Homo sapiens: one gene and its partners. The protein of the gene in region 1 purifies or fractionates together with the protein of each later gene. This does not show direct contact. Each region holds a gene or a part of one and is shown on either strand. Other genes may lie near its edges. The genes, in order: GNL3L, NUDT14, TERT, OLA1 and NMD3.

The links.
Region 2: the proteins of GNL3L (region 1) and NUDT14 purify together in Homo sapiens (affinity purification with mass spectrometry; one large-scale study listed by BioGRID and IntAct). This does not show direct contact.
Region 3: the proteins of GNL3L (region 1) and TERT purify together in Homo sapiens (affinity purification with western blotting, with the first as the bait; one study listed by BioGRID). This does not show direct contact.
Region 4: the proteins of GNL3L (region 1) and OLA1 fractionate together in Homo sapiens (co-fractionation; one large-scale study listed by BioGRID). This does not show direct contact.
Region 5: the proteins of GNL3L (region 1) and NMD3 fractionate together in Homo sapiens (co-fractionation; one large-scale study listed by BioGRID). This does not show direct contact.

Annotation. Positions count from the first base shown.
Region 1 is NC_000023.11:54,561,219-54,567,686, forward strand, and holds the end of GNL3L (guanine nucleotide-binding protein-like 3-like protein), read left to right. Parts: 3' UTR 1-6,071; downstream 6,072-6,468.
Region 2 is NC_000014.9:105,173,592-105,179,711, reverse strand, and holds part of NUDT14 (uridine diphosphate glucose pyrophosphatase NUDT14), read left to right. Parts: intron 1-1,976; coding exon 1,977-2,020; intron 2,021-2,684; coding exon 2,685-2,749; intron 2,750-2,940; coding exon 2,941-3,178; intron 3,179-3,724; coding exon of another isoform or gene 3,725-3,746; exon of another isoform or gene 3,747-4,224; intron 4,225-6,120. UniProt on the Homo sapiens protein: Hydrolyzes UDP-glucose to glucose 1-phosphate and UMP and ADP-ribose to ribose 5-phosphate and AMP. The physiological substrate is probably UDP-glucose. Poor activity on other substrates such as ADP-glucose, CDP-glucose, GDP-glucose and GDP-mannose.
Region 3 is NC_000005.10:1,274,894-1,281,576, reverse strand, and holds part of TERT (telomerase reverse transcriptase), read left to right. Parts: intron 1-1,238; coding exon 1,239-1,419; intron 1,420-2,106; coding exon 2,107-2,286; intron 2,287-2,780; coding exon 2,781-2,936; intron 2,937-6,683. UniProt on the Homo sapiens protein: Telomerase is a ribonucleoprotein enzyme essential for the replication of chromosome termini in most eukaryotes. Active in progenitor and cancer cells. Inactive, or very low activity, in normal somatic cells.
Region 4 is NC_000002.12:174,236,766-174,243,448, reverse strand, and holds part of OLA1 (obg-like ATPase 1), read left to right. Parts: intron 1-6,683. UniProt on the Homo sapiens protein: Hydrolyzes ATP, and can also hydrolyze GTP with lower efficiency. Has lower affinity for GTP.
Region 5 is NC_000003.12:161,238,311-161,241,810, forward strand, and holds part of NMD3 (60S ribosomal export protein NMD3), read left to right. Parts: intron 1-419; coding exon 420-516; intron 517-2,735; coding exon 2,736-2,853; intron 2,854-3,500. UniProt on the Homo sapiens protein: Acts as an adapter for the XPO1/CRM1-mediated export of the 60S ribosomal subunit.

The DNA of each region.
Region 1 (6,468 bases):
ACTCTGCCTACAAAACTCTCTTAGACAGGTGAATATGCCACTAGAAGTTAGGTTGCTGGTAGACCTGGGGGTCCCTGCGGGAGGGTGATGGTTTCTTTACCACCCCACAGGAGATTTCAGTGGCAAGGCATGCCTGCAGTGGGCTTTGGGCCATGCATCTTCCAAGTCCATAGGTCTTCACCTGGGTGGCAGTGAGAAAAAGTAGAAAGTAATGAGCCTCCTGTGTCTCTGGAAGGTTCTAGGGATAGGGTAGAGGGAAGAAGAGAACAAACAAGCCTGGCTTGTGCTGAAGTGTGGTAGGCACTACCCTGTTTGCGTGAAGAGAAAACAAAGCACCTGTTAGTAGGGAGGCTTTAGGGGGAAGCCCCGTCTTGGGGGCATTTCTGGGCAGATTGTGAATTGGAGGAATCTCTTTAACTGAAGTACTCTGGCTGGACCCTGCCCTTGTGTGACCATGTCTCCTATTGCACCAGCATTTGAATTCCATGGCTCAAGAGGGTTCTGGTACCATTTATTCACAGACTGTATCCTCGAGAGAGCTGCTATATATGGGAGTGTACCAGCCAACTCCTTTTCCAGTGTCTGTAAGTCACCTCATTAAAGTATAATTAGCTGTCTCCTCTGGGAGATCCTACCCCATCAGACAAGGGCAGTGAGCCCAAGCAGTGCCAGAGGCCCTCAGAAAGGGATTAGGGTAGATGATTGCAACTGAAACACAATCTTCTTTCTTTGCCAGGGTATTTTGGGGGTTTTGCCCCAAAATATACCCTGGGCATAGCATTACTGCAGTCTTGGATGTCTACCCCAAACTTCCACACCATCCTTCGACCCACAGCTGCACCTTTATTTATTTATTTTGCTCTGTTGCCCAGGCTGGAGTGCAATGGCGTGATCTCGGCTCACTGCAACCTCTGCCTCCCGGGTTCAAGTGATCCTCCTGCCTTAGCCTCCCAAGTAGCTGGGATTACAGGCACCTGCCACCACGCCTGGCTAGTTTTTGTATTTTTAGTAGAGACGATGTTTCACCATGTTGACCAGGCTGGTCTCGAACTCTTGACCTCAAGTGATCCACTCGCTTCGGCCTCCCAAAGTGCTGGGATTATAGGCGTGAGCCACTGTGCCCAGCCTCACAGCTGCATCTTAACCTTACCTTTGCCTCTGCCTCTCAAGCTGGTACCTCCTAATTTACATCCTAAGAGTGGAACCATGTGACAAGGACTGGAGTGCCATTGGCTGTGGACTGTTCAGGCAGGGAAGTACAAGACCACTCTTGTATTCAGGGGCAACCAAAGGAGAGAATTACGTACTTGTTGAGTACAAACTGCACCAAGCCCTGGAGACCCATTACCACCGTTAACCCTCAATACAGCTCTGCTAGTAAGGGATTCGTCTCCCCAAATGAAAAAAAAAAGTAATCTCAGAATGTTGGCCGAGCATGGTGGCTCACACCTGTAATCCCAGTTATGCAGGAGGCTGAGGCAGGAGAATCACTTGATCTCAGGAGGCGGAGGTTGCAGTGAGTCGACATCACACCACTGCACTCCAGCCTGGGGGACAGAGTGAGACTTCGTCTCGGAAAAAAAAAAAAAAAGTTGACAGGATGGCCAGACCCAAGTGGGCGTATTAAGTGGTGGTGCTAGGATTGGAACCCAAGCGTGATTAAAACCCTATGCAGGCCCTTTCCTCTATATTGTACTGCCTCCTTAACAAAGGAAGATTGATTAAGCCCCTACTTTGTGCCAGTCTCTGTTATCAAGTCCGTTAAATGCATTTAACGTTAAATTTTTTCTTTTTTGGTTTAAAAAACTCTAGTTTCTTAAACTACTAGTTTTTAGTGTCTTGCTAAAACTATGTGCTCTTGAATAGGCTACAACTTATTTCACACTATCTCATTGAACTCTCCTGGTATGTGATAGTGTTATAATGAAAAATTGCATACCAGGACAGCTAAGTCTATTTTGCAACCATACAGCGTTTCATAATTTAGCATTTAAAATACAGACAGTCCCCGACTTTTGGTGGTTTGATGTGGGATTTTTGGTGGAAAAGCAGTATACATTCAGAATGCACCTCTACTTATGATGGGGCTACTTCCTGGTAAACCCATTGTAATGTGCAAATTACGGGTTTATCAGGAGGTGACCCCATCGGTAATGGAGAAGTGCTGGGAGGTAAATATTAGAAATGGAAGTATCTAAATGAGTAAGAAACAGCATGGGAGCATAATTTGGCCAAAATCAAACAGAACTAAAGTAGTCATGTCGGTAAGAATTTGGGACTGCAGGCCAGTTACGATAGCTCTCACCTGTAATCCCAGCATTTTGGGAGGCCGAGGCAGGCGGATCACTTGAGGTCAGGAGTTCAAGACCAGCCTAAACAATATGGCGAAACCTCATCTCTACCAAAAAAATACAAAGATTAGCTGGGCATGGTGTCTCATGCCTGTAGTCCCAGCTACCTATGGGGCTGAGGCAGGAGGATCTCTTGAGCCCAGGAGGTCGATGCTGCATTGAGCCGAGATTGTGCCACTGCTCTCCAGCGTGGGCAACAGAGTGAGACTGTCTCAGGGGGAAAAAAAAAGAGGAAAACAAAAAAGACGTTGGGAGTGCAGTTTCTCTACCTACAGCATATCTCAAAGGTTTTTTTTAAAAAAGTATTTTCTTAACTTTTTACCTTCATTTTTCAAAACAATTAGGGTACAATTTACATATAGTAAAGTTCACTCTTTATAGTTTTAGTTATGTGAGTTTGTACAAACATATACAGGAGTGAACCACTACCACAATCGAAATATAGTTGCATCACCCCCCTAAAACTCTCCAGGCCCTTTTGTAGTCAACTCCTACCCCCGACCCTCAGATTCTGCTAACCACTGATTTGTTTTCTGCCCCTATAGTTTTGCTTTAGTATGACTGTCATATCAATAGAATCATACAATGAGTAGGCTTATTTTATGCCTTCAGGTTTTAAAAATTATAAACATTTACATTACAGTAAAATTCACTCTGGTATACAGTTCTATAAAGCTCTGATAAATGTGTAGAGTTGTGTAACCACCAATGCAACCAAGGTACAGAACAGTCCTCTTAGCCTCTCCCTACCAAATTTATTCCTGCTACTTTGTAGTCAAAACCAGTCCCCTACACCCAAACCCTGGCAGTCACTGGTTTTTTTCTTCGTTCTCTTTTTTTTTTTTTTTTTTTTGAGACAGAGTCTAGCTCTGTTGTCCAGGCTGGAGTGGTGCAGTGGCGTGATCTCGGTTCACTGCAACCTCCGCCTCCAGGGTTCAAGCGGTTCTCCTGCCTCAGCCTCCCGAGTAGCTGGGATTATGGGCGCCCGCCACCACGCCCAGCTAATTTTTGTATTTTTAGTAGAGATGGGGTTTCACTGTTTTGGCCAGGCTGGTCTCGAACTCCTGACCTCATGATCCTCCTGCCTCAGCCTCCCAAAGTGCTGGGATTACAAGAGTGAGCCACTGCGCCTGGCCTTTTTCTTTGTTCTTATATTTTTGTCTTTTTTTTTTTTTTTTTTTTGAAACAGAGTCTCACTCTTTCACTGAGGCTGGAGTGCAGTGGCGTGATCTTGGCTCACTGCAACCTCCACCTCCTGGGTTCAAGCGATTCTCCTGCCTTAGCCTCCCGAGTAACAGGGACTACAGGTGCCCACCACCATGCTGGGCTAATTTTTGTATTTTTAGTAGAGGCGGGGGTTTCTCCACACTGGCCAGGCTGGTCTTGAACTTCTGACCTCAAAAGATCCACCCACCTCGGCCTCCCAAAGTGCTGGGATTATAGGCATGAACCACCGTGTCCGGCCATATATTTTCGTCTTTTGAAGACTGTTATATACATGAAATTATATGGTATGTAGCATTTTGAGAGCGACTTCTTTTGCTATGAGTAATACATTTGAGATTCATCCATATTTCTCAGTATATTAATAGTTCTTATTTCTGAGTCACTCCATTGTGTGGATTTACTACTGTTTGTTCCCCAGTTGAAGGATGTTTAGGATCTTTGCAGTTTTGGACAATTACAAGTAAAGCTGCTATAAACATTTGTATGCAACATTTTGTGTTTTCATTTATCTATAGTAAATACCTAGAGTTGGATTGCTGGGATATATGGTAAGCATATGTTTGACATTTTAAGAAACTTCTAAACTGTTTTTCAAAGTGGCTCTACCATTTCACATTCCCATCAGTATGAAAGTTTCATTTCCACATCCTCTCTAGTACTTGGGGGTGTCAGTTTAGTTTTTTAATTTTTAAATTTTTTAATTTTTTTAATACATTTAAATAGAGATGGGGTCTCACTGTGTTGACCAGGATGGTCTTGAACTGCTGGCCTCAAGTAATCCTCCCATCTCGGTCTCCCAAAGTGCTAGGATTACAGGTGTGAGCCACCATGCCCAGCCAGGTTTTTTGACATTAAGTATGTGGTGGTATCTCATCGTTTTTATTTGCATCCTCTAATGATTTGAGCATATTTTATATGCTTATTTGCTATCTACATATCTTCTTTGGCAAGGTGTTCACATCTCTTGCATATTTTGGATTGTTTTATTATTTTTGAATTTTGAGGATTATATGCTGGATACAGGGGTGTTTTTTTTTTTTTTTTTTTTTGAAACAGAGTCCTCACCCAGGTTGGAGTGTAGTGGTGCAATCTCGGCTCACTGCAACCTCTGCCTCCTGGGTTCAAGTAATTCTCATGCCTCAGCCTCCTGAGTAGCTGGAATTACAGGCGCAGGCCACCATGCTTGGCTAACTTTTATATTTTTACCAGAGACAAGGTTTCACCATGTTGGCAAGGCTGGTCTTGAACTCTGGACCTCAAGTGATACACCCGTCTTAGCCTCCCAAAGTTCTGGGATTACAGGCATGAGCCATTGTGCCTGGCCAGTATCTTGTCTTCTCATTCTGTAAACGGTGTCTTTTTTTCATTATGGGAAAGCTTTATTGACACATTTGTTTTTATTTTTAAAAATTATGGTAAAATACACAGAACATAAACGTTACCATCTGATATGGTTTGGCTGTGTCCACACCTAAATCTCGAATTGTAGTTCCCATAATCCCCACACATATGTACCACATTTTCTTTATCCAGTCTTTCGTTGATAGACATTTAGGTCGATTCCATGTCTTTGGTATTGTGAATAGTGCTGCAGTGAACATATGTGTGCATGTGTCTTTATGGCAGAATGATTTATATTATGCATAACCAAAACTGTACTTATTAAACAATAACCTCCCAACCCCTTCTGCCCACAACCTCTGGCGACTGCCATGCTACTTTCTGTCTCTGAATTTGAATACCCTGATAGTCATATAATATTTATCTTTTTGTGACTGGCTTATTTCACTTTGCATAATGTATTCAAGCTTAATCTGTGTTGTAGCCTGCGTCAGAATTTCTTTTCTTTTTAATGCTGAGTATTATTCTATTGTGTGTATATACCACATTTTATTTATCCATTCATCCACTGATGGACATGTGCATTGTTCCCACCTTTTGGCTATTGTGAAAAATGCTGTTATGAATATGGGTATGGAGATCTCTCCCCTTATTTTGAGACAGGATCTCACTGTCACCCAGGCTGGGGTGCAGTGGTGTGCTCATAGGTCACTGTAGCTTCGACCTCCTGGGCTCAAGCGAACCTCCCACCTCCGCCTCTTGAGTAGCTGGGACCACAGGCATGTGCCACCATGGCTGTTAAATTTATTAATTTGTTTTTCTATGGATCATGCTTTTTGTGTTACATCAGAGGAGTCTTTGCTTAACATGAGATGACAAAGGTTTTCTCCCATGTTTCCTCCTAAAAGTTTTATAGTTTTAGGTTTTACATTTAGGTCTATGATCCATTTTGAGTCAATTTTTGTATATGGTACAAGGTATGAATCTATGCTTTTTAAAAAAATATGGTTACCCAATTTTTCTAGCAGTATGTGCTAAAACTTTGCTAAAGTCACTTAGTTCTAGTAGCTTTTTTTGCAGATTTAACCAGACTTTCTACATAGACAATCATATCTTCTGTGAATAAACATGGTTTTATTTCTTCATGTCTAATATATATGTCTGCATTTTTTTTTTTGTCTTATTGTAGTCGCTGGGACTTCCAGTACTACACTGAGTAAGAGTGGTGGCCAGGTGCGGTGGCTCACGCCTGTAATCCCAGCGCTTTGGGAGGCTGAGGTGGGCTGATCACCTGAGGTCGGGAGTTTGAGACCAGTCTGACCAACATGGAGAAACCCCGTCTCTACTAAAAATACAAAATTAGCTGGGTGTGGCAGCGCATGCCTGTAGTCCCAGCTACTTGGGAGGCTGAGGCAGGAGAATCTCTTGAACCCAGGAGGCAGAGGTTGCAGTGAGCCGAGATCACACCATTGCACTCTAGCCTGGGCAACAAGAGCGAAACTCCATCTCAAAAAAAAAAAAAAAGAATGGTGAGCACAGGCATCCCTGT
Region 2 (6,120 bases), on another chromosome or scaffold:
GTACAGCAGGTGGAGACATGGGGTCACTGCCCTTTTCCCTGACGTTGGCCATATGGGATGCCTGCTTGTGGCTGCACAGTCCCCACAGGGCTGGGTCTCAGGCAGCAGGTGCAGGCCCAGGCAGGTGCCCTCTGTGGCCCTGGTGGCAGCACTCTCTCCCTCACTCCCCGTGAAGCCTCAGGGCAGCCCTTGCAGCCTCAGCGGGCAGCCCGCCGGCACAGCTCTGCTGAAGGGTTCTGGTGACCAGAGCTGAGCTGGTTCGGGCTGTGGCTGTGGTGGACACGGATGTAGGCTCGGGCTGGGCGGCATCTCCTCAGGGCCAAGGGACATTGGGCTGGACGCTGGCTGCCACCCAGGGGCAGCTGCAGCCCTCAGCTTTTTGCTGCGTCCAGCCAGGGGAGGCCTGTGATGTCAGGCAGACCAAAGGCAGGGGACCCCCGTGGCTCCGAGGCGATGGGGTCTTCTTTGCACCCAGCCCTGCCCCTCCCTCCCAGGCCTCAGCAGCCTCCCTAAACCTCCCTGCACCTTGACCTGGCTGGACCTAAGGGTCTGACACGCTTTTGACCTTGAGCTGAGAGGGTCCTTGAGACCTGCATGGGGTGATGTTACTCGGGGGGAAGCAGTGGTGGGGAAGGGGCATGGGCACAGCAGGCACATGGCAGGCTGTGGGCAGGGGGCTTCCCTGGAGCCTGCCCTGGCTGGGTGGTGGTTCGGGGGTGGCTGGGTGTCAGGCAGGCCTGGGGTCGCCTCCCGGGAGTGGTACCCCACGGCCTCTCGGGCTGCCTGACCTGCGCGGGACGCCGGCCCTCCCTTCCCTTGGAAACCGGTACTCTCCTCCCAGGACGCCTTTGCCTCCCGGCCAAGCTCAGAGGGCCTCTGCGCCTCTGCCTGCCCAGAGTCCCTTCCCTCACTTCCGTCACCTCCTCCAGAAAGTCCTCAGGAAGGCTTCTTCTCTCTTCTGCAGTCCTGGCTGCACTTCTGTGTCTCTGCTGCTCAGACCTCTTGTCCATTTCACAGCCCTGGGCAGAGCCCCCGGTGGGGGATGAGCAGCTGGCCTGGGCCTCAGAGTGGCAGATGGGCTGAGCGTGCCGGAGATGGGACCCCGCGGGACCCCAGGCTCAGCCCCCAGGATGGGAGTGCATCTCAGAATGCATCAGTTCCAGCCTCCCCCAGCAGGCCCAGCCCACACACCTGCCCACCCTGCCTCCTCCGTTCACTGAGTGCCACCCAGGGTGCAGGGGCCTGCCAGGGTGGTGTGCCCAGTGTGGGGGAGTGGGAAGGTGGAGGGTGGCCACAGGAGAACGGGACCACAGGGTATGTGGGAGAGTCGAGGCCAGAAACTGGGGGTAGGGGTGTGTGGGGGGGCTGCCGAGCCTGGTCACCATCATGACAGTCACCGAGTCCTGCAGTGCGATCTCCTACCTGGCTGGGGCGCCACCCTTCCTCATCTGCTCCTGGTGCCAGCCCCTCCTGCCACCCTTCCCCATCCACTCCTGGTGCCGGCCCCTCCTGCCCTCCCGTCTCCACCTGTTCAGTGGCCCAAGGAAGCATCAGCAGGAAAACCTGACCTCTCCTCTGCCTGCAGGGCCCTCCTGCCCTGCTGTGAGGGAGTCACGCCTGCCCTCCCCGAGCCTCCATGAGCCTTCCTATACTTGGTGACGGTGTACGTCTCTCTGCAGCCCCTTGTGCTCGGTCTGTGCTGGGCAGTGTTTCATGAGGTGCCTGGACACCTTCCCTGCCCTTTGCCCTGGTCTTCTGCCTCACTCGTAGGGTATTAGGCTGTCCTTGACCTCCCTGCCCCTCCCAGGCTGCTTGCTCCTCTGCCCACGGGAGCTGCAGTTCCTGGCTCCCGTGGGCCCAGGCCACGAGCCGATCTCCCTGGTTAGGAGTGGGTGCAATGGGTCTGTGGCCTCCTCGGTTCCCCGAGCACCTCCGCCCATCCTGGGACATTCTAACCGCTGACCTGCCCCTTCTAGAATGGTGCCCAGAAGTCCTGGGACTTCATGAAGACGCATGACAGGTGAGAGCCTGGCCCAGCCTGGCCACTGGGGAAGCCCCAGACTGATGTCTACGGGGACACTGGGCCCAGGGCGAAGGTGCCCTCTCCTCCCTGACGTTGCTGTTCCCTGCGTGGGCTCCAAAAGTCCCTTCTCTCTGCCCGGCCTCTGGGTTTCCTATCCCTGAGGGGTCAGCCTGAGGCCTGGGGGCTGAGTCAGGTCTTTGCTCAGGCCACCGGGACCATGATGGTGGGCAGGCCCTCTCAGGGCAGGGAGAGGCTGTCCTGGAGCCTTTGCCCCTAGCATCCAGGGTCTGGGCTGGATGGCGACGTGGCTCGAGGAGTGTGGCTGGTGGGCAGCTGCTCAGTGAGGGCCAAACGTCCTGTCAGTCACCCGGCCTCAGCTGCGAGCACCCTGACCTACTCAGCTGCCCGTGTGTCCTTCCCTGCCCCCCGCCTCCCATCCTGCCAGCTGGAATACAGCAGGTCTGGGTCCTGGCCAGACTGTGACCCTGGAAAGCTCTGGTCCCGCCTGGGCCTCAGCCATCCTATCTGAGCAAGGGGCCTGACCTCCCTGGGCTGCTGGCAAGGAGGTGGGATGGCCACGCTGGGAACAGAAAGATGGGAGGTGGGGCCCCACGAGGGCCAGTGGAGTGCTTCTGTGCTGAGCCCCTCCCCCCGTACACAGCGTGACCGTTCTCTTATTCAACTCTTCTCGGAGGAGCCTGGTGTTGGTGAAGCAGTTCCGGCCAGGTGAGGCCAGCTGGGGTGGGAAGGGGATCTGCAGGGTCACCTTCAGGTCCCTGTGGTCCTGAGGGTCTGAATACAGATGTGGGAGGGGGCTCCAGGGGAAGCTGAGGCCCTGGGAGGGGGCTTGGCTGTGTGGGTGACCTGGAGGTGGCCACCACGTGGCTGTGAGCACAGTCTGGCTTCTTCCCACGCAGCTGTGTATGCGGGTGAGGTGGAGCGCCGCTTCCCAGGGTCCCTAGCAGCTGTAGACCAGGACGGGCCTCGGGAGCTACAGCCAGCCCTGCCCGGCTCAGCGGGGGTGACAGTTGAGCTGTGTGCCGGCCTCGTGGACCAGCCTGGGCTCTCGCTGGAGGAAGTGGCTTGCAAGGAGGCTTGGGAGGAGTGTGGCTACCACTTGGCCCCCTCTGATCTGCGCCGGGTCGCCACATACTGGTGAGTGGGACCAGGCCCTCAGGCCTGTGGTGTGACTCAGGAGATGGGAGAGAGTGAGGGCCCCGTCCCTGGGAGTGTGCAAGCAGGATGGATTCCTCCTTGTTTTCCAACATGGGATTAGGGGAGGGTTGGACCGAATGCGCCTCAGCTCCTAAGCCAGGCCAGAATCTGGGCTCTTGGGGCTCTCTCTGCAGCGTCTCGGCCCCATGCCCCCAGCCTGCGGCCCCCAGCTGTGTGAGGCAGGCCGGGTGACAGCTGCTGCTGACAGGTGCCTCTACTTCCTGTAGGATTAAGACCGGGCGCTGGGGGTGGGGGTGACTCACAGCTCTGTTCTCAGAGGGTGGCTTAGGAATGAGGGAGAAGCTGTGTCCTGGGCTGGAGAAGGGGTGGCTCCAGCTCTCCTGGGGAACAGGCACTAGAGCCTGCGCTTTGGGACCTGACCCACCAAACTCGAGGCACCAACTCTTGCCCCGCGAGGGCTGCCAGCTGGGGTGGGGTTGCCTTCCCAGGACTAGATGTTGGTATGAAGCCCATCCACTTCCCCAGGGACGCTACGATGGGCTCCTGACCCCAGCTGAGGTCTTGGGGAAGGAGGAGGGTGTCACAGACCCCCACCCCCACCAGCTGAGCACCAGCCTCCACAGCCTCCTCCAGAGGCCAGGGCCCGCTCCACTGGGAGAAGCACCGGAAGTCTCTGCACCTGTCAGCCTGGCACATGGGCCACTCAGGGTTGAGCCTGGGGCCCTCCCACCTCAGCAGCCTCAAGGACTTCACCTGGGCACGTTCCTGGCTGGATGGGTGGACTCCCAAGTTAAAGGCAGCATTTCCACGCTGGGCCAGGCACGGTGGCTCACGCCTGTAATCCCAGCACTTTGGGAGGCCGAGGCAGGCGGATCACCTGAGGTCAGGAGTTCGAGACCAGCCTGACCACATGGAGAAACCCCGCCTCTGCTAAAAGTACAAAATTAGCCAGGCGTGGTGGCAGGAGCCTGTAATTCCAGCTACTCAGGAGACTGAGGCAGGAGAATCGCTTGAACCCAGGAGGCGGAGGTTGCGGTGAGCCTGAACCCAGGAGGCGGAGGTTGCGGTGAGCCGAGATCGCGCCATTGCACTCTAGCCTGGGCAACAAGAGCGAAACTCTGTCTCAACAAAACAGAATTTCCATGCCGAAGGGTGGACTTGGGTGTGAAGGATGGGCCTTGGTTTTCTGCAGGTGTCTACCCCGTGGTGGGCCACGCCCACTGTGCCCCCAGCTCCCCAGCCCATAGTACTGAGCACAGCCGGGAGGCATGGGAGGGGCTGGAGTCCCCTTGGTCCCCCTGGAGGAGGTGGGCCTGGGCAGGTTCCTGGCAGAGGGACCGCACAGGCTCTCAGGGCAAGTGGTCAAGCAGCCCTGGCCGCGGTGGTTCTACTGGTACAGCCTCTGGGCCACAGCCTGATTGTGAGGGTGCTGGGGAGCCAAGGAGGGCTCTGGGAAGTAGGCATCCTGCTTAGACTCGCATCGGGAAGAGCAGGCCGTGGCTTCAGGGATGCAGGACTGGAGATGCTGCTGACTAGGGGTCAGGGTGTCCGTCTCTGAGGGCCTGATGGGGGGCTGGACTGACAGCAAAGTTCACCCACCCTGTGGCAGGGCCCGTGGCTCCCTGTCTCTGATTCTGGAGGTGAGCCAGGCCTCTTACCTGCCGCTGCAAAGGACAAGGCCCAGGGAGGCAGTCAGCTTGGGGCGTGATGGAGTGAAGTTGGAACGTGCCCTGGGGTGGGGGAGGCGTTGCCCAGCCTGGCTGGCAGATTCCTCTCAGCCCGGGCCAAGGGCCGGGCCTGTCTCCTTCACAAGCCGGCGGAAACCGGGGCTGGAAACCCCAGACCCGCCACTTCCCTCAGAGGCGCAGCCGCGGCCGCCGCCGGAAATGGGCCATCAGGAAGGGGTCTGCGGGAGGTGAGGGGCTAGAGGGCAAGGAAGCAGCTGGGTAAGGTCGGTCTGGGGTGAGTCCCCCCGGAGGTGGGGAGGCCTTGGGGGTGGGGCATGGAAGCCCCCAGTTCTGTCCCTGCCCCTGTATGTTGGGTACATCTCAGAGGGCGGCCTCTACCCTGCAGGCCTCCGGCTGGCCTTGGTTCATGGCACCCGACAGCCCCTCCTGCGGCGAGCCAGGGCTCCCCCACCCCCTGGTCATCTTCCCAGATGCCCCTCAGTCCCGTTTCTCCCCAGATCCACACCTGGCCCTCCCCCTCCTGTTCCAGAATGCAGCCCAGCCCCTCTGCCATCCTGTCCTCCTAGCCCGTGGTCTCCCTCCACACACGCCAGTCCAGGCTCCTTCCCTTGGTGCCTGACCCCTCCTGGCTGCCAGCAGCCCCCTTCTGGCCACTGCCCACTGAGGGAGGGGGCTTCCTCTTACCCCTCCCCAGCCTGGGCCACTGGGCCTGGTACTGAGGACCTCGCTGCCACCCCACCCCACTCTGCCATGCTACGGGGGGTGGGGGGGCGGTCAGTGCATGCTGTTCCTAGTCTGAAACTTGTGTCCTGTGGGTGCCTGGTGGGGAACCCTTGCGGGAAGGCCTGGTGGGTTTGTCCCTGCTTCCCAGCCAGCCTGTGTCCCCGGGTATGGGCTGGGGTCTGGCATGGGCCTCTGCAGCTGGCCACAGACTGAGGGGCTCCAAACAGCACTGGGAACAGCCTCAGGGTATCTGGTTGGGGGCTGCAGACAGGGGTGGGGTCTTCTGCTTGGCCTTGACAGGTTGCAGGCAGGTTGTCAGCCGGATCTGCAATCTCATGGGGGCTTGGGGTCTTCCCGGCTCACGAGGTTATGGCAGAATTCAGCTCCTGGTGGCTGGGGACTGGGTCCCACCTCCCTGCTGGCTGTTGGCCCTTCCCAGCATGGCGGTTGCTTCCCCTTCAGGGCCAGCAGGACTGGCCTGAATTTCTCCCTTTCTGGCGTTGAAACACC
Region 3 (6,683 bases), on another chromosome or scaffold:
AGATTCAAGCTGGATTTGCATCAGTGAGGGACGGGAGCGCTGGTCTGGGAGATGCCAGCCTGGCTGAGCCCAGGCCATGGTATTAGCTTCTCCGTGTCCCGCCCAGGCTGACTGTGGAGGGCTTTAGTCAGAAGATCAGGGCTTCCCCAGCTCCCCTGCACACTCGAGTCCCTGGGGGGCCTTGTGACACCCCATGCCCCAAATCAGGATGTCTGCAGAGGGAGCTGGCAGCAGACCTCGTCAGAGGTAACACAGCCTCTGGGCTGGGGACCCCGACGTGGTGCTGGGGCCATTTCCTTGCATCTGGGGGAGGGTCAGGGCTTTCCCTGTGGGAACAAGTTAATACACAATGCACCTTACTTAGACTTTACACGTATTTAATGGTGTGCGACCCAACATGGTCATTTGACCAGTATTTTGGAAAGAATTTAATTGGGGTGACCGGAAGGAGCAGACAGACGTGGTGGTCCCCAAGATGCTCCTTGTCACTACTGGGACTGTTGTTCTGCCTGGGGGGCCTTGGAGGCCCCTCCTCCCTGGACAGGGTACCGTGCCTTTTCTACTCTGCTGGGCCTGCGGCCTGCGGTCAGGGCACCAGCTCCGGAGCACCCGCGGCCCCAGTGTCCACGGAGTGCCAGGCTGTCAGCCACAGATGCCCAGGTCCAGGTGTGGCCGCTCCAGCCCCCGTGCCCCCATGGGTGGTTTTGGGGGAAAAGGCCAAAGGGCAGAGGTGTCAGGAGACTGGTGGGCTCATGAGAGCTGATTCTGCTCCTTGGCTGAGCTGCCCTGAGCAGCCTCTCCCGCCCTCTCCATCTGAAGGGATGTGGCTCTTTCTACCTGGGGGTCCTGCCTGGGGCCAGCCTTGGGCTACCCCAGTGGCTGTACCAGAGGGACAGGCATCCTGTGTGGAGGGGCATGGGTTCACGTGGCCCCAGATGCAGCCTGGGACCAGGCTCCCTGGTGCTGATGGTGGGACAGTCACCCTGGGGGTTGACCGCCGGACTGGGCGTCCCCAGGGTTGACTATAGGACCAGGTGTCCAGGTGCCCTGCAAGTAGAGGGGCTCTCAGAGGCGTCTGGCTGGCATGGGTGGACGTGGCCCCGGGCATGGCCTTCAGCGTGTGCTGCCGTGGGTGCCCTGAGCCCTCACTGAGTCGGTGGGGGCTTGTGGCTTCCCGTGAGCTTCCCCCTAGTCTGTTGTCTGGCTGAGCAAGCCTCCTGAGGGGCTCTCTATTGCAGACAGCACTTGAAGAGGGTGCAGCTGCGGGAGCTGTCGGAAGCAGAGGTCAGGCAGCATCGGGAAGCCAGGCCCGCCCTGCTGACGTCCAGACTCCGCTTCATCCCCAAGCCTGACGGGCTGCGGCCGATTGTGAACATGGACTACGTCGTGGGAGCCAGAACGTTCCGCAGAGAAAAGAGGGTGGCTGTGCTTTGGTTTAACTTCCTTTTTAAACAGAAGTGCGTTTGAGCCCCACATTTGGTATCAGCTTAGATGAAGGGCCCGGAGGAGGGGCCACGGGACACAGCCAGGGCCATGGCACGGCGCCAACCCATTTGTGCGCACAGTGAGGTGGCCGAGGTGCCGGTGCCTCCAGAAAAGCAGCGTGGGGGTGTAGGGGGAGCTCCTGGGGCAGGGACAGGCTCTGAGGACCACAAGAAGCAGCCGGGCCAGGGCCTGGATGCAGCACGGCCCGAGGTCCTGGATCCGTGTCCTGCTGTGGTGCGCAGCCTCCGTGCGCTTCCGCTTACGGGGCCCGGGGACCAGGCCACGACTGCCAGGAGCCCACCGGGCTCTGAGGATCCTGGACCTTGCCCCACGGCTCCTGCACCCCACCCCTGTGGCTGCGGTGGCTGCGGTGACCCCGTCATCTGAGGAGAGTGTGGGGTGAGGTGGACAGAGGTGTGGCATGAGGATCCCGTGTGCAACACACATGCGGCCAGGAACCCGTTTCAAACAGGGTCTGAGGAAGCTGGGAGGGGTTCTAGGTCCCGGGTCTGGGTGGCTGGGGACACTGGGGAGGGGCTGCTTCTCCCCTGGGTCCCTATGGTGGGGTGGGCACTTGGCCGGATCCACTTTCCTGACTGTCTCCCATGCTGTCCCCGCCAGGCCGAGCGTCTCACCTCGAGGGTGAAGGCACTGTTCAGCGTGCTCAACTACGAGCGGGCGCGGCGCCCCGGCCTCCTGGGCGCCTCTGTGCTGGGCCTGGACGATATCCACAGGGCCTGGCGCACCTTCGTGCTGCGTGTGCGGGCCCAGGACCCGCCGCCTGAGCTGTACTTTGTCAAGGTGGGTGCCGGGGACCCCCGTGAGCAGCCCTGCTGGACCTTGGGAGTGGCTGCCTGATTGGCACCTCATGTTGGGTGGAGGAGGTACTCCTGGGTGGGCCGCAGGGAGTGCAGGTGACCCTGTCACTGTTGAGGACACACCTGGCACCTAGGGTGGAGGCCTTCAGCCTTTCCTGCAGCACATGGGGCCGACTGTGCACCCTGACTGCCCGGGCTCCTATTCCCAAGGAGGGTCCCACTGGATTCCAGTTTCCGTCAGAGAAGGAACCGCAACGGCTCAGCCACCAGGCCCCGGTGCCTTGCACCCCAGTCCTGAGCCAGGGGTCTCCTGTCCTGAGGCTCAGAGAGGGGACACAGCCCGCCCTGCCCTTGGGGTCTGGAGTGGTGGGGGTCAGAGAGAGAGTGGGGGACACCGCCAGGCCAGGCCCTGAGGGCAGAGGTGATGTCTGAGTTTCTGCGTGGCCACTGTCAGTCTCCTCGCCTCCACTCACACAGGTGGATGTGACGGGCGCGTACGACACCATCCCCCAGGACAGGCTCACGGAGGTCATCGCCAGCATCATCAAACCCCAGAACACGTACTGCGTGCGTCGGTATGCCGTGGTCCAGAAGGCCGCCCATGGGCACGTCCGCAAGGCCTTCAAGAGCCACGTAAGGTTCACGTGTGATAGTCGTGTCCAGGATGTGTGTCTCTGGGATATGAATGTGTCTAGAATGCAGTCGTGTCTGTGATGCGTTTCTGTGGTGGAGGTACTTCCATGATTTACACATCTGTGATATGCGTGTGTGGCACGTGTGTGTCGTGGTGCATGTATCTGTGGCGTGCATATTTGTGGTGTGTGTGTGTGTGGCACGTGTGTGTCCATGGTGTGTGTGCCTGTGGTGTGCATGTGTGTGTGTCTGTGACACGTGCATGTTCATGCTGTGTGCTGCATGTCTGTGATGTGCCTATTTGTGGTGTGTGTGTGTGCATGTGTCCGTGACATATGCGTGTCTATGGCATGGGTGTGTGTGGCCCCTTGGCCTTACTCCTTCCTCCTCCAGGCATGGTCCGCACCATTGTCCTCACGCTCTCGGGTGCTGGTTTGGGGAGCTCCACATTCAGGGTCCTCACTTCTAGCATGGGTGCCCCTGTCCTGTCACAGGGCTGGGCCTTGGAGACTGTAAGCCAGGTTTGAGAGGAGAGTAGGGATGCTGGTGGTACCTTCCTGGACCCCTGGCACCCCCAGGACCCCAGTCTGGCCTATGCCGGCTCCATGAGATATAGGAAGGCTGATTCAGGCCTCGCTCCCCGGGACACACTCCTCCCAGAGCGGCCGGGGGCCTTGGGGCTCGGCAGGGGTGAAAGGGGCCCTGGGCTTGGGTTCCCACCCAGTGGTCATGAGCACGCTGGAGGGGTAAGCCCTCAAAGTCGTGCCAGGCCGGGGTGCAGAGGTGAAGAAGTATCCCTGGAGCTTCGGTCTGGGGAGAGGCACATGTGGAAACCCACAAGGACCTCTTTCTCTGACTTCTTGAGCTATCGCAGCTACTTGCAAATCTCAGCAGAATTTTACCCTCATGGAAAGCTGATGGCCACCACCTGTGCCCAGGTGTAGAAAGTCACTAGAGCCCAGGAGACCCCCCCGTCCCCACCGCCCACCTGTGCCCGGGTGTAGAAAGTCACCAGAGCCCAGGAGACCCCCCCCCACATCCCCGCTGCAGCGGAAGCTACCGCCCCCACCGTGACCCTCGTTCCGACCTCGACCTCCATGGTCTCCCTCTCCCGGTCTCCATGTGAGTGAGATCAGGCAGGAGGTGGGTTTTGGGGTTCGAGCCTCAGCTATGCTGAACGCCTCAGCTGTGCGTTCTGTCCATGAATGGCATCCGTTGTGGAACTCGCCACGTGGATGTATCCTTCCCGCTGCTGTGGAGGCTCCTGGGTGCGGACTGCACGGCTGCGCCTGCTGTGAGCCTGCTGGGTTCTGGGAGTGTCCCAGGGGTCAGAGGCCCTCGCCTCTGGGTGAATTCCAGGGGTGGGGTTGCTGGGTCACAGACGTGCTTTAGGGATGTTGTGGGAGTTTCCAGGGGGGTGACAGTGACACCCCGGCTGGCTGCTTGTGAGGGCGATGCCTCCGGTGGCCGCTGGCCTGAAGGTGTCGAAGCCGCCTCGTGGGATTGTGCAGGGGGCTCTCTTGATGCCCACGTGCCCACAGTGTTCCCGTGCTGGCCGCCCCGGGGCTCTTGCGGGAGGTGGCTGTCCGTCCTGCCCCGCTCTGTATGGGGCGCCTGCCTGCCATCATCGGCTTGCAGGAGCTCTTTGTGTGTTCTGCTGCAAGTGTGGCATCACATGCGTGCACTGTGAATCTCTGTGCCGTGTGTGTCTTGCTTTTGTGCTCTCAAGTCAAGCCTTTTGAGGACTGGAAGATTGTACTTCTATCGCAGTCCACTAACACAGTCCAGTAACGCAGTCCACTTTATCAGCTGTTTGTGGCTAAAGCTGTTTGTGTTCTCTGCAGGAACTCAAGGTATTGAGGTTGTGGTGACGTTGCTTCTGCGCCTCCTTTTAGAACAGTCTTTACTGTGTCAGCTTGCAAACCTGGGTGGGGATTGGTGGAATTGGTTTTCATGTGTGGGGTAGGTGGGGATCTGTGGGATTGGTTTTCATGTGTGGTGTAGGTGGAGATCTGTGAATTGGTTTTCATCCGTGGGGTAGGTGGGGATCTGTGGGATTGGTTTTTATGTGTGGGGTAGGTGGGATTGGTTTTCATGTGCGGGGTAGGTGGGGATCTGTGGGATTGGTTTTCTTGTGTGGGGTAGGTGGGGATCTGTGGGATTGGTTTTTATGTGTGGGGTAGGTGGGGATATGTGAATTGGTTTTCATCCGTGGGGTAGGTGGGGATCTGTGGGATTGGTTTTTATGCGTGGGGTAGGTGGGGATCTGTGAATTGGTTTTCATCCGTGGGGTAGGTGGGGATCTGTGGGATTGGTTTTCATGTGTGGGATAGGTGGGGATCTGTGGAGTTGGTTTTCATGTGTGGTGTAGGTGGAGATCTGTGAATTGGTTTTCATCCGTGGGGTAGGTGGGGATCTGTGGGATTGGTTTCTATGTGTGGGGTAGGTGGGGACCTGTGGGATTGGTTTTTATGTGTGGGGTAGGTGGGGATCTGTGAATTGGTTTTCATCCGTGGGGTAGGTGGGGATCTGTGGGATTGGTTTTCATGTGTGGGGTAGGTGGGGATCTGTGGGATTGGTTTTCATGTGTGGGGTAGGTGGGGATCTGTGGGATTGGTTTTCATGTGTGGGGTAGGTGGGGATCTGTGGAGTTGGTTTTTATGTGTGGGGGTAGGTGGGGATCTGTGGAGTTGGTTTTCATGTGTAGGGTAGGTGGAGATCTGTGGGATTGGTTTTCATGTGTGGGGTAGGTGGGGATCTGTGGGATTGGTTTTCATGTGTGGGGTAGGTGGGGATCTGTGGGATTGGTTTTCATGTGTGGGGTAGGTGGGGATCTGTGGAGTTGGTTTTCATGTGTGGGGTAGGTGGAGATCTGTGGGATTGGTTTTCATGTGTGGGATAGGTGGGGATCTGTGGGATTGGTTTTTATGAGTGGGGTAACACAGAGTTCAAGGCGAGCTTTCTTCCTGTAGTGGGTCTGCAGGTGCTCCAACAGCTTTATTGAGGAGACCATATCTTCCTTTGAACTATGGTCGGGTTTATAGTAAGTCAGGGGTGTGGAGGCCTCCCCTGGGCTCCCTGTTCTGTTTCTTCCACTCTGGGGTCGTGTGGTGCCTGCTGTGGTGTGTGGCCGGTGGGCAGGGCTTCCAGGCCTCCTTGTGTTCATTGGCCTGGATGTGGCCCTGGCTACGCTCCGTCCTTGGAATTCCCCTGCGAGTTGGAGGCTTGCTTTCTTTCTTTTTTTCTTTCTTTTTTTTTTTTTTTGATAACAGAGTCTCGCTCTTTTTTGCCCAGGCTGGAGTGGTTTGGCGTGATCTTGGCTCACTGCAACCTGTGCTTCCTGAGTTCAAGCAATTCTCTTGCCTCAGCCTCCCAAGTAGCTGGAATTATAGGCGCCCACCACCATGCTGACTAATTTTTGTAATTTTAGTAGAGACGAGGTTTCTCCATGTTGGCCAGGCTGGTCTCGAACTCCTGACCTCAGGTGATCCTCCCACCTCGGCCTCCCAAAGTGCTGGGATGACAGGTGTGAACCGCCGCGCCCGGCCGAGACTCGCTTCCTGCAGCTTCCGTGAGATCTGCAGCGATAGCTGCCTGCAGCCTTGGTGCTGACAACCTCCGTTTTCCTTCTCCAGGTCTCGCTAGGGGTCTTTCCATTTCATGACTCTCTTCACAGAAGAGTTTCACGTGTGCTGATTTCCCGGCTGTTTCCTGCGTAATTGGTGTCTGCTGTTTATCGATGGCCTC
Region 4 (6,683 bases), on another chromosome or scaffold:
GGAGACATGTTTTTGTTTTTTGAACAAGATTTTATTCTCTTGCCCAGGCTGGAGTGCGGTGGCATGATCATGGCTCACTGCAGCCTAAATCTCCCGGGCTCAAGCAGTCCCTACTCCTCAGCCTCCTGAATAGCTGGAACTGCAGGCACACAAAACACCGTGCCTGGTTAATTTTTGTATTGTTTGTAGATGGAGTTTCACCATGCTGCCCTGAGGCTGGTTTCACAGCCTGACCAGCGTGGTGAAACCCCATCTCTACTAAAAATACAAAAATTAGCCAGGTGTGGTGGCACGCCCCTGTAATCCCAGCTACTCAGGAGGCTGAGGCAGGAGAATTGCTTCAACCTGGGAGGCGGAGGTATCAGTGAGCTGAGATCGCGCCACTGCACTCTAGCCTGGGTGACAGAGCGAGACTCCATCTGAAAAAAAAAACAACAAAAACACAAAAAAGCCTGTCTCCTTGCCCCGTGTGGTGGCTCACGCCTGCTGGAATTACAGGTGTGAGCCACCGTGCTGGGCAATTAAATGACCTCTTTTAATGAAGTAGAAAGAATATGGAGATTTGGTTTCTAGTTCTGTACTGCTTTTTCTTACCTGAGTGACCCTTTATAAATGAGCTCCTGTTGGAGCAGTGTATTATTGTGGTTGTGAGGCTTAGAGAATATTGGGGGCGAAAGTACGTTTTGATACAGTGTTCCAAACTTCTTTATTTCTGTGAGGGATAGCTCTTCTTGTTGCTATCCACTGCATCAGATGGGATTAGGTTCAATTAAGAGCATCAGAAAACCCCAGATAACCAGTTTTTTTTCTTCATGTAAAAATGTACATTTTGCAGTCATAGCTTGGTATAGTGGACCTGCTTTATGAAGTCCTCAGGAACCCATGCTCCTTTCACTTCACAGCTTGGCAATCCCTAGGATGTGGCCTCATCCTCATGGTCTAGAGCTAGGGTTCCCGAACCTCATGCTGGGGACTGGTACCGATCTGTGGCGTGTGAAGAACCAGGCTGCATGGCAGGAGGCGAGCAGCAGGCGAGTGAGCATTCCCACCTTAGCTCCACCTCCGGTCAGGTCAGCAGCAGCATTCGATTCTCAGAGGAGCGCAGGCCCTGTTGTGAACTGCGCATGCAAGAGATCTAGGTTGCACGCTCCTTATGAGAATCGAACTAATGCCTGATGATCTAAAATGGGGCAGTTTCATCCTGAAACCATCCCCCACACCCTTGGTCCGTGGAAAAATTGGCTTCCATCAGCCAATTCACGGTCCAGTCCCTGGTGCCAAAAAGGTTGGCGGCTGCTGGTCTAAGGTGTTGTGAATTCCAGGCAGCTGGTTATCCGAAGGGTCAGGGGGCCAAACTTGACTAGCAGCCTTTTTCCTGTAAACTGCCATACCATACTTCTGCCAACATCCCTTTGTCCAGAATTTAGTCACAAGAATTTAGTTGCAAGGAAGGCAAGGAAATGTAGTCTTTATTTTGACAGCCACATGTTTGGTTAAAAATTCTGTTACTCTTGGCTGGGTGCAGAGGCTCACGCCTGTAATCCCAGCACTTTGGGAGGCTGAGGCAAGCGGATCACTTGAGGTCAGGAGTTTGAGAACAGGCTGGCCAACATGGTGAAACCCCATGTCTACTAAAAATACAAAAATTACCTGGGTGTGGTGGCGCACGCCTCTAATCCCAGCTACTCGGGAGGCCGAGGCAGGAGAATGGCTTGAACCTGGGAGGCAGAGGTTGCAGTGAACCAAGATTGTGCCACTGCACTCCAACCTGGGCCACAGAGTGCGACTCTGTCTTAAAAAGAAAAAACAAAAAACGATTACTCTGAAAGAAGGGGAAAATGGATATTATGGGCAACTAGTATACTGTGTTCAAACACTCACAAACTGCCCCAGGAGAGTAATTGTCTTGTTTAGCTGATCCTTCTGGGAATGCATTTTGGTGTCCCTGCAAATTGCCTTCTCCCAAATTTCTGCAGACCAATCACAGCGTCTGTGAAAGCCATTTACCATTGCTGAGGGAAAAGGTTGTAGAAAATGCTAAAAAAAAGAAAAAATCACAAGAGAATTATCACCATTGTATAGTTATCTGTTGATGTGTAGCAAACCATTCCAAAAGTTCATGGTTTAAAATAGTAACAATTTTTGTTCGTCGGGAATGTAGTGAGTTAGAAAGGTCTTCTGCCAGTCTCATTGGGATCCCTCATGTGACTGCATTCAGCTGGTGGCTAGTTGAGACTGAAAGATCCAAGATGGCCATTTTAACAGATCTGGGGCCTTAGCTGGATTGACTGGAAGTCTGGGGCACTTCTCTTATACTTGGCCTCATTCTCTTTCTAAGTGGTCTCTAGACCAAGCTTCCTTATATCTTGGCGTCTGGCTCTCGAGAGAATGGAGGTGTGGCAGTGGCATAGCAAACTTACACAGAAATCTTTTGGTCAAGGCAAGTCATGACACCAGCCCAGAGACATGGGGAGAGGGGAAATAGACTCTACCTCTTGATGGGAGGAGTGACAAAAAATGTGTGGCCATCTTCAATCCACTGCAGTCCACTATTTTCCTGATACAAAATATGTGATGTCTATGTGTTCCTAGAAGTCTGCCTAGTTGATTCTTAGCTCACTTGTGTTTTAGAAGCTCCATTCTTGATTGCTCAAAGGAACTCACAGGAGGAAAATTATTCTCTAGGCTGCAAATACTGATGATCTGAGTATTTTCATTCTAAAGAGCTGATAAAATTAAGCTAAGAGTCAGATTCCCATGTCTACCGAGAAGACAGGTATCTATGGATATCAGAGATATCTCTTGATGGCTTGTGATTTTGAGCATCTTTCCATATGTTATTGGATATCTTATGTAAAAAGTCTTTTTTTTTCTTAATGATTAGTTTTTTATTCTGGATATGAGTTCTTTGTTGGATATGTATTACAATGATCTCTTGCCAGTTTGCTTGACTTTTCACTTAAGATTAAATTAAAAAAAAATTTGAGCTGGTCTCAGTGGTGCCCACATGTAGTCTCAGCTACTCAGGAGGTTGAGGTAGGAGGATACCTTGAGCCCAGGAGTTCTGGGCTGTGTTGTGCTATGCTGATTGGGTGTCTGCAACGCCACCCACAGTGGTGATCCAGTGTCAGCACTAAGTTCAGCATCAATATGGTGACCTATCAGGAGTGGAGGATCACTAGGTTGTCTAAGGAGGGTGAACTGGTCCAGGTCAAAAACAGAGCAGATCAAAACTCCTGTCCTGATGGGTAGTGAGATCTCTGAATAGCCACTACACTCTAGCCTGGACAATATAGTAAGACCCATATGGAAAAAAAATTTCTTTTGAAATAATTTCATGCTTAAAAAAACTCACAGTTGCAAAAATAGTTTTAAAAATTCCTATTTAACCTCTGCTTGGATCCCCTAAGTGTTAAAATCTTTATAACTATAATACAATGATCAAAATCAGGAAATAAACATTGATTTACTAATTGTCCCTCTAATGTCCTTTTTTTGGTCCAAGATTCAATCCATAATTGTATGTTGCATTTAATTGTTTTTTGTTTTTTTTTTGAGATAGAGTCTCGCTCTGTCATCCAGGCTGGAGTACCTTGGCCTGATCATAGCTCACTGCAGCCTCAAATTCCTGGGCTCAAGTGATGCTTCCACCTCAGCCACCTGAATAGCTGGGACTGCAGGCACATTTTATTATGTCAGGCTAATTTTTAACTTTTTTTTTTTTTTTTTTTTTTGTAGAGATGGGTTCTCACTATGTTGCCCAGGCTGGTCTCAAACTCCTGGCCTCAAGTGATCCTCCCACCTCGTCCTTCCAAGTGCTGGGATTATATGCATGAGCCACTGTGCCCAGCTGCATTTAAGTGTTTTGTTTCCTTAGTTTCCTTTAACCTGGAACACATTCTCAGTCTCTTTTTGTGTTTGATATCCTTGACACTTTTGAAGAGTACTGGCCAGTTATTATGTACAGCTCTCATTTGGGGTTTGTCTGATGTTTCCTCATAATTAATTTCAAGTTATGTACTTTTGAGCACATAAGTGACATATGCTTTTCAATACAGTGTATTAGAAAGCACATGATGTTGATTTGTCCATTTTTGGTGATATTAACTTTGATTGCTCGTTGGTATCTGACAGATTTCTTCACTGAAAGGGTTATTTTTCCCATTGCAATTAATAAGCATCTTGTAGGGGGTCCTTTGAAATTTTGTACATATATTGTTTCTCATACTTTTGCCCCCTAATTTTGGCATGTGTTATTGATTCTTACTGAAACAGTTATTATTGTGGTGTTTGCCAAATGGTGATTAAAAAATATCCCTTATTTCTTCTACATTTAGAAGAAACAATTTGTAGAAGGAACAATGGAACTTCTATTGTGTAAAATCCTATTGTACAAAAGAGTTTCCCATTTATTCATGTATTTGATTATAATTTATTTATATCAGTATAGATTCTTAATTTATTCTTTTGGTTATAATCCATTACTGTTGTTATTTTGTCACTCTAATTGCCCATATTTGGTGATTAGGAGCCTTTATGTTCACTTATATTCCTTTTGACATGTCCTCTTTATTTTTTGAGTGCTTTCTACTTTCTGACACCACAGTATCTTTCAGTTATATACAACATATTTTATATTTCAGTACAATATGTTATTTGTACTCTGTCTGCTTCAGCCTTAGGATACATAAATTTTTATTTAGATATATGATTTTATTTCTCTTAGGTATATATTTAGAAGTAGAATTTCTGGGTCACATGTGACTGTATATTTAACTATTGAGGACTGCCAAACTGTTTTCCAAAGTGGCTGCACCATTTTATGTGCGCACAGGTGGTGTATGTGGGTTCCAATATTTCACATCCTTGTCAACATTTGTTGTTATCTTTTTGATTATAGCCAAGTTGTGAAGTTTTTGATTGGTGTTTTTTCTCTTTTTTTTTTTTTTTTTTTGGACATAGAGTCTCACTCTGTTGCCCAGGCTGGAGTTCTGTGGCACAGTCTTGGCTCACTGCAGCCTCCACCTCCTGGGTTCAAGTGATTCTCCTGCCTCAGCCTCCTAAGTAACAGGGATTATAGGCATGCGCCACCACCAGGTAATTTTTGTATTTTTAATAGAGCCAGGATTTCACCATGTTGACCCAGGCTGGTCTCAAACTCCTGACCTCAGGTGATCCGCCTGCCTCCGCCTCCCAAAGTGCTGGGATTACAGGTATGAGCCACCGTGGCTGGCCAATTGGTGTTTTCTTGATGGCTAAGAATATTGACATCTTTTCATGTGCTTATCACTTCTTCATTTTGAAAGATATTTTCACTGGGTAGAATTCTAGGTTAACAGTTATTCTTCTAGTGCTTTGAAGATAATCTTCTACTTTATTCCCTTTCTGGGATGCCTATTACAGACAAGTGCTGCATAATGATGTTGGTCAATGACTGACTGCATATATGACGGAGGTCCCATGAGATTATAATGGAGGTGAAAATTTTCTATCACCTGGTGATACTGTAGTTGTGGTAATTTCATAGTGCAAGGCATTACTCACGTTTGTGGTGATGCTAGTGTAAACAAGCCTGTGCTGCCAGTCATATAAAAGTATAGCATATACAATTATGTACAGTACGTAATACTTGATAATAAATGACAGTTACTGGCTTATGTATTTACTATAGTTAATTTTTGTTTGTTTGTTTTTTGAGACAGAGTCTTGCTCCATTGCCCAGGCTGGAGTGTAGTTGCCTGATCATAGCTTACTGCAGCCTAGAGCTCCTGGGCTCAAGCAATCCTCCTGCCTCAGCCACCTGAGTATAGCTGTGACTACAGGCACACGCCACCCCACCTGAGTAATTAAAAAGATATATTTTTGTAGAGATGGGGACTTCCTGTGTTGCCTAGGCTGGTCTTGAACTCCTGGCTTCAAGCGATCTCTTTGCCTCAGTCTCTTTGTGCTGGGATTACAGGCATTAGCCTCCATGCCCAGCCTATACTGTAATTTTTATGGTTACTTTAGAGTGTACTCTTTCTACTTATAAAAAAAAAAAGTAACTGTAAAACAGCCGTTGGCAGTTCCTTCAGGAGGTATTCCAGAAGGAAGCATTGTTATCATAGGAGATGACAGCTCCATGTGTGTTATTGCCCCTGAAAACCTTCCTGTGGGACAAAATGTGTAGGTGGAAGACAGTGATATTCATGATCAGACTCCATGTAGGCCTGGGTTAATGTATGTGTTTATGTCTCGGTGTTTAACAAAAAAGTTTTTAAAAAAAGCACACATTTTAAAGATATAAAAAAGCATATGGAATAAGGATATAAAGAAAAAATATTTTTGTACAGCTATACAGTGTATTTGTATTTTAAGCTAAGTGTTATTACAAAAGAGTCAGTAAGTTAAAATTAAAGTTGATAAAGTAAAAAGTATTGGTAAGCTAAGGCTAATTTATTGAAGAAAGAAAAATATTAAAAAATAATTTTAGTGTATCCTGAATGTACAATGTTCATAAAGTCTACAGTAGTGTGCAGTAATGTCCTAGGCCCTCACATTCACTCACCATCACTCATTGACTCACCCAGAGCACCTTCCAGGCCTGCAAGCTCCACTCATGGTAAGCGTCCTATTTCACTTTTATATGTATTTTTACTGTTCCTTTTCTATGTTTAGATATATAGTACCTGCCATTGTGTTAC
Region 5 (3,500 bases), on another chromosome or scaffold:
CAATCAGGAAGCATATATTGGGTTAACCACCCACTCACAGAGGTGGTAGGACTTGTGCTCCAAAGATCGGGAAATTTTCATAGCTGGAGTTTATATTGAAAGGTACTATTAGTGTGAACAAAGATTTGCAGTGGGCGTTAGTATGGCTTTTAATAATGCTATATAGAAAGTAGATTGGTCTGAGCCAACAGCATGTTCTAGAGGTTTGGTGGAAAAGGTTCAAAATAGGTAGGGCTTAGTTAGAATGGTGAAGGTTTTGACATGCAAGTGCAGGACAGTAGGTTTTACCAGAGGAGGCATCATGAAGCCATTTTAGACCTTGGACAATGATGGTTTGATTTAATGAAAATTGATATTCCTGAGTCCATACAGGTTAATGATCTTTGTCTTTATATTACTACTAACTTTTTTCTTAATAGATACAAAGCATCACAAAGACTGATCTCTCAAGATATCCATAGTAACACATACAATTACAAAAGCACTTTTTCTGTGGAAATTGTTCCAATATGCAAGGTACTTTTCTTTTTCATTTAATCCATATCTGTAAAAGAGTACAAGTAATTAATTGGCTTATATGTAATTTGTAGCTCCTGGTTTTCCTCTAGGGTTGGTTAAAAATTTAGAATAAGTTCCTTAAGTGACTTCTAACACATTCAGCCATGTTAAAAGATATATATTTTTAAAAAAGTCATGCTTATAATTATGAATTGACATGCCTTTTATTTTGGTGTATTAAAATGAAAAGACCTGGTTATAGTTGATAAAAGTCCGTATTCTTTGAAATTTGTGATCCTATGAGCCTGTATCATATAGTTCAGTGAAATTGAATAAAAGAAATGACATTAAAATCAATATTAGTGAGCCACTTTGTGGAATATGTACAAACAAAATTTTGGCAAGAAATGAAAGAATATTGTGATAATGTGAAAATGAGATCATAGAATCATTTTTATGATTTTAAAACATAAGCTGAATAAAACATTTAAAATGTAGATTATTTCATTTAATTGTACTAAGATAAAACTCTGCTTCAGAAAAATATGAATTAAAATTCAATAAATAGTTATTGAGTATCTATAGTATAGAAGGCTGTGTACTGAGGATTGTATAACTACAGGTCTCTGCCATGTAAGAATTTATATGTCAGTATTAAATCACTAAGAATGATAACTGCCATTATTGTGACCATTCTACATAAAGTTAATCTAGATACTTTAGTGTCTTTCACCTCATTCTCATCTCATAATAACTGAGGTAAGCCATATCATTTTGACGATGAGGAAATTGAAGTTTGAGGAGGTTAGATAACTTGCCCAAAGTTACATGATCACAAAATGATGAAGCTAGGATTTGCACCCAGGTCTGTGTCTCCAAAGCTTTAAAACTGCTATTGCTATTTTATAGTATGTACTAGGGATGAAATGATAGCTTAAAATAGGGTCAGCAAACTTTCTCTGTAAAGAGACAGATGGTAAATTTTTTAACTTTCAGGTCGTATAATCTCTTTTGCAGCTACTCAGCTTTGCTGTTGTACAAAAGTAGCATGGGTAATATGTAAAGGAATGTCAGGGCCGTGTTCTGGTAAAACTTTATTTACAAAAACAGATGGTGGGTCAGATTTGTCCTGAGGGTGGCATTTTGCCAACCTCTGGTTTAAAACAGTAAATGTTTCCCTGGTACAAATCTTGAGAAATATGAATTTAGGTGTGAGGGCATATTTAGGCCTTGTGTAACTGAGTTTTACACATGTAAAAATTAACATATGTATTAAACTATGTAAAAAAGTATATTTGTTTATCTTTGGAAACTCATGTATTAAAAACCAAGGACTGAACTAAGAGCTGTTATGATTGTGAATAGATACACCTTAAAATATAACTCAGATCTTTTTTGTATTTTAATTCAGTTTAAAAACAGATAATTACGTTGCTGCTTCATGTCTCCCAATATAAATGTAGACATGTGACTTTTTTGGGCTTAAATCTTTGATTGTATATTGGCACATGTAGCCATGTAAGAGAAATGTGTTCCTTTGAAGTTTATTTTTTAATGGAGATTGAAAGAAGTCACAGGTGGATTTATAGAATCACTCTCCTGCTAATGTTTATAATACTCTGTTTAGAATGTACACTGTATTAACATATAGAGTGATAAGAGGCATTCACACTGCAATAAAATGGAAATAATAATAGCTTGGTGATTTGGGCCCTGGATTTTTTTTTTTTTTTTGAGAGACAGTTTTGCTCTGTCACCTAGGCTAGAGTGCAGTGGCACCACCTTAACTCACTGAAGCCTCGACCTCCTGGGCCCAGGCTGTCATTCCACCTCAGCCTCCCAAGTAGCTAGGCCCACAGGCATGCACCACCACGTTTGGCTAATTAAAATATATATATATATGTATATGGAGACAGGGTCTCCATATGTTGTCCAGGTTAGACTTGAACTCCTGGGCTCAAGGGATTCTCCCACCTTGTCCTCCCAGATTGCTGGAATTACAGGAGTGAGCCAGCGTGCTCAGCCAGGATTTTTTTTTTTTTAAAGCATTTTTATTAAGACAAGATGCCTGTCATACTTAAGGTCTGATTCTTTTCTTTAGTCTCTTTGTTGATTGATAGAATTGAAAATAACGTTTTGGTTGGTCAAATGCAATTGGATTGGGTGTTTATTGATGAGTGTTTATTGGACTGTTATTTAGGATATGCCTCATTCTAAATGTTAGTTCTTATGCCTAGGATAATGTTGTCTGTCTGTCTCCAAAACTGGCACAAAGCCTGGGAAATATGAACCAGATTTGTGTGTGTATTCGAGTAACCAGTGCCATTCACCTCATTGATCCAAACACCCTACAAGGTAAATTCTGGAAATGATTTGCCTTGACAATTTTGTTTTGTATGACAAACAATAATAATTTGTGTTGTTAATTTTTCAAGCATTCTTGCTAATATTGTTTTGAAAGGTTAGTTAAAATTTGTGCTATTGTTTAATACAAAACATTGTGGAATTTGCAAGCTTTGATTAGTTACTTTTGTATTTTTTATTTAAAGAAACAATTCTGTTAATTTTTACATATTTACTGGTTTATTCCATTAATTTTTACTGAAATTGACTTTTTTTTTTTTTTTTTTGAGATGGAGTCTGGCTCTATTGCCCAGGCTGGTGTGCAGTGGCGCAATCTCAGCTCACTGCAACCTCCGCCTCCCAGGTTCAAGCTATTCTCCTGCTGCAGCTTCCCAAGTAGCTGGGATTACAGGTGCCTGCCACCATGCCCAGCTAATTTTTGTATTTTTAGTAGAGACGGGGTTTCACTGTGTTGGCCAGGCTGGTCTTGAACTCCTGACCTCGTGATCTGCCCGCCTCGGCCTCCCAAGGTGCTGGGATTACAAGCGTGAGCCACCATGTCCAGCCTGAAATTGACTTATTTACCTCATTTAATTTTTGTGACTATTTACTTAAGTCCATTGCCAAAATTTGGTGTCTAGCAGTTATTTTAAATTTTG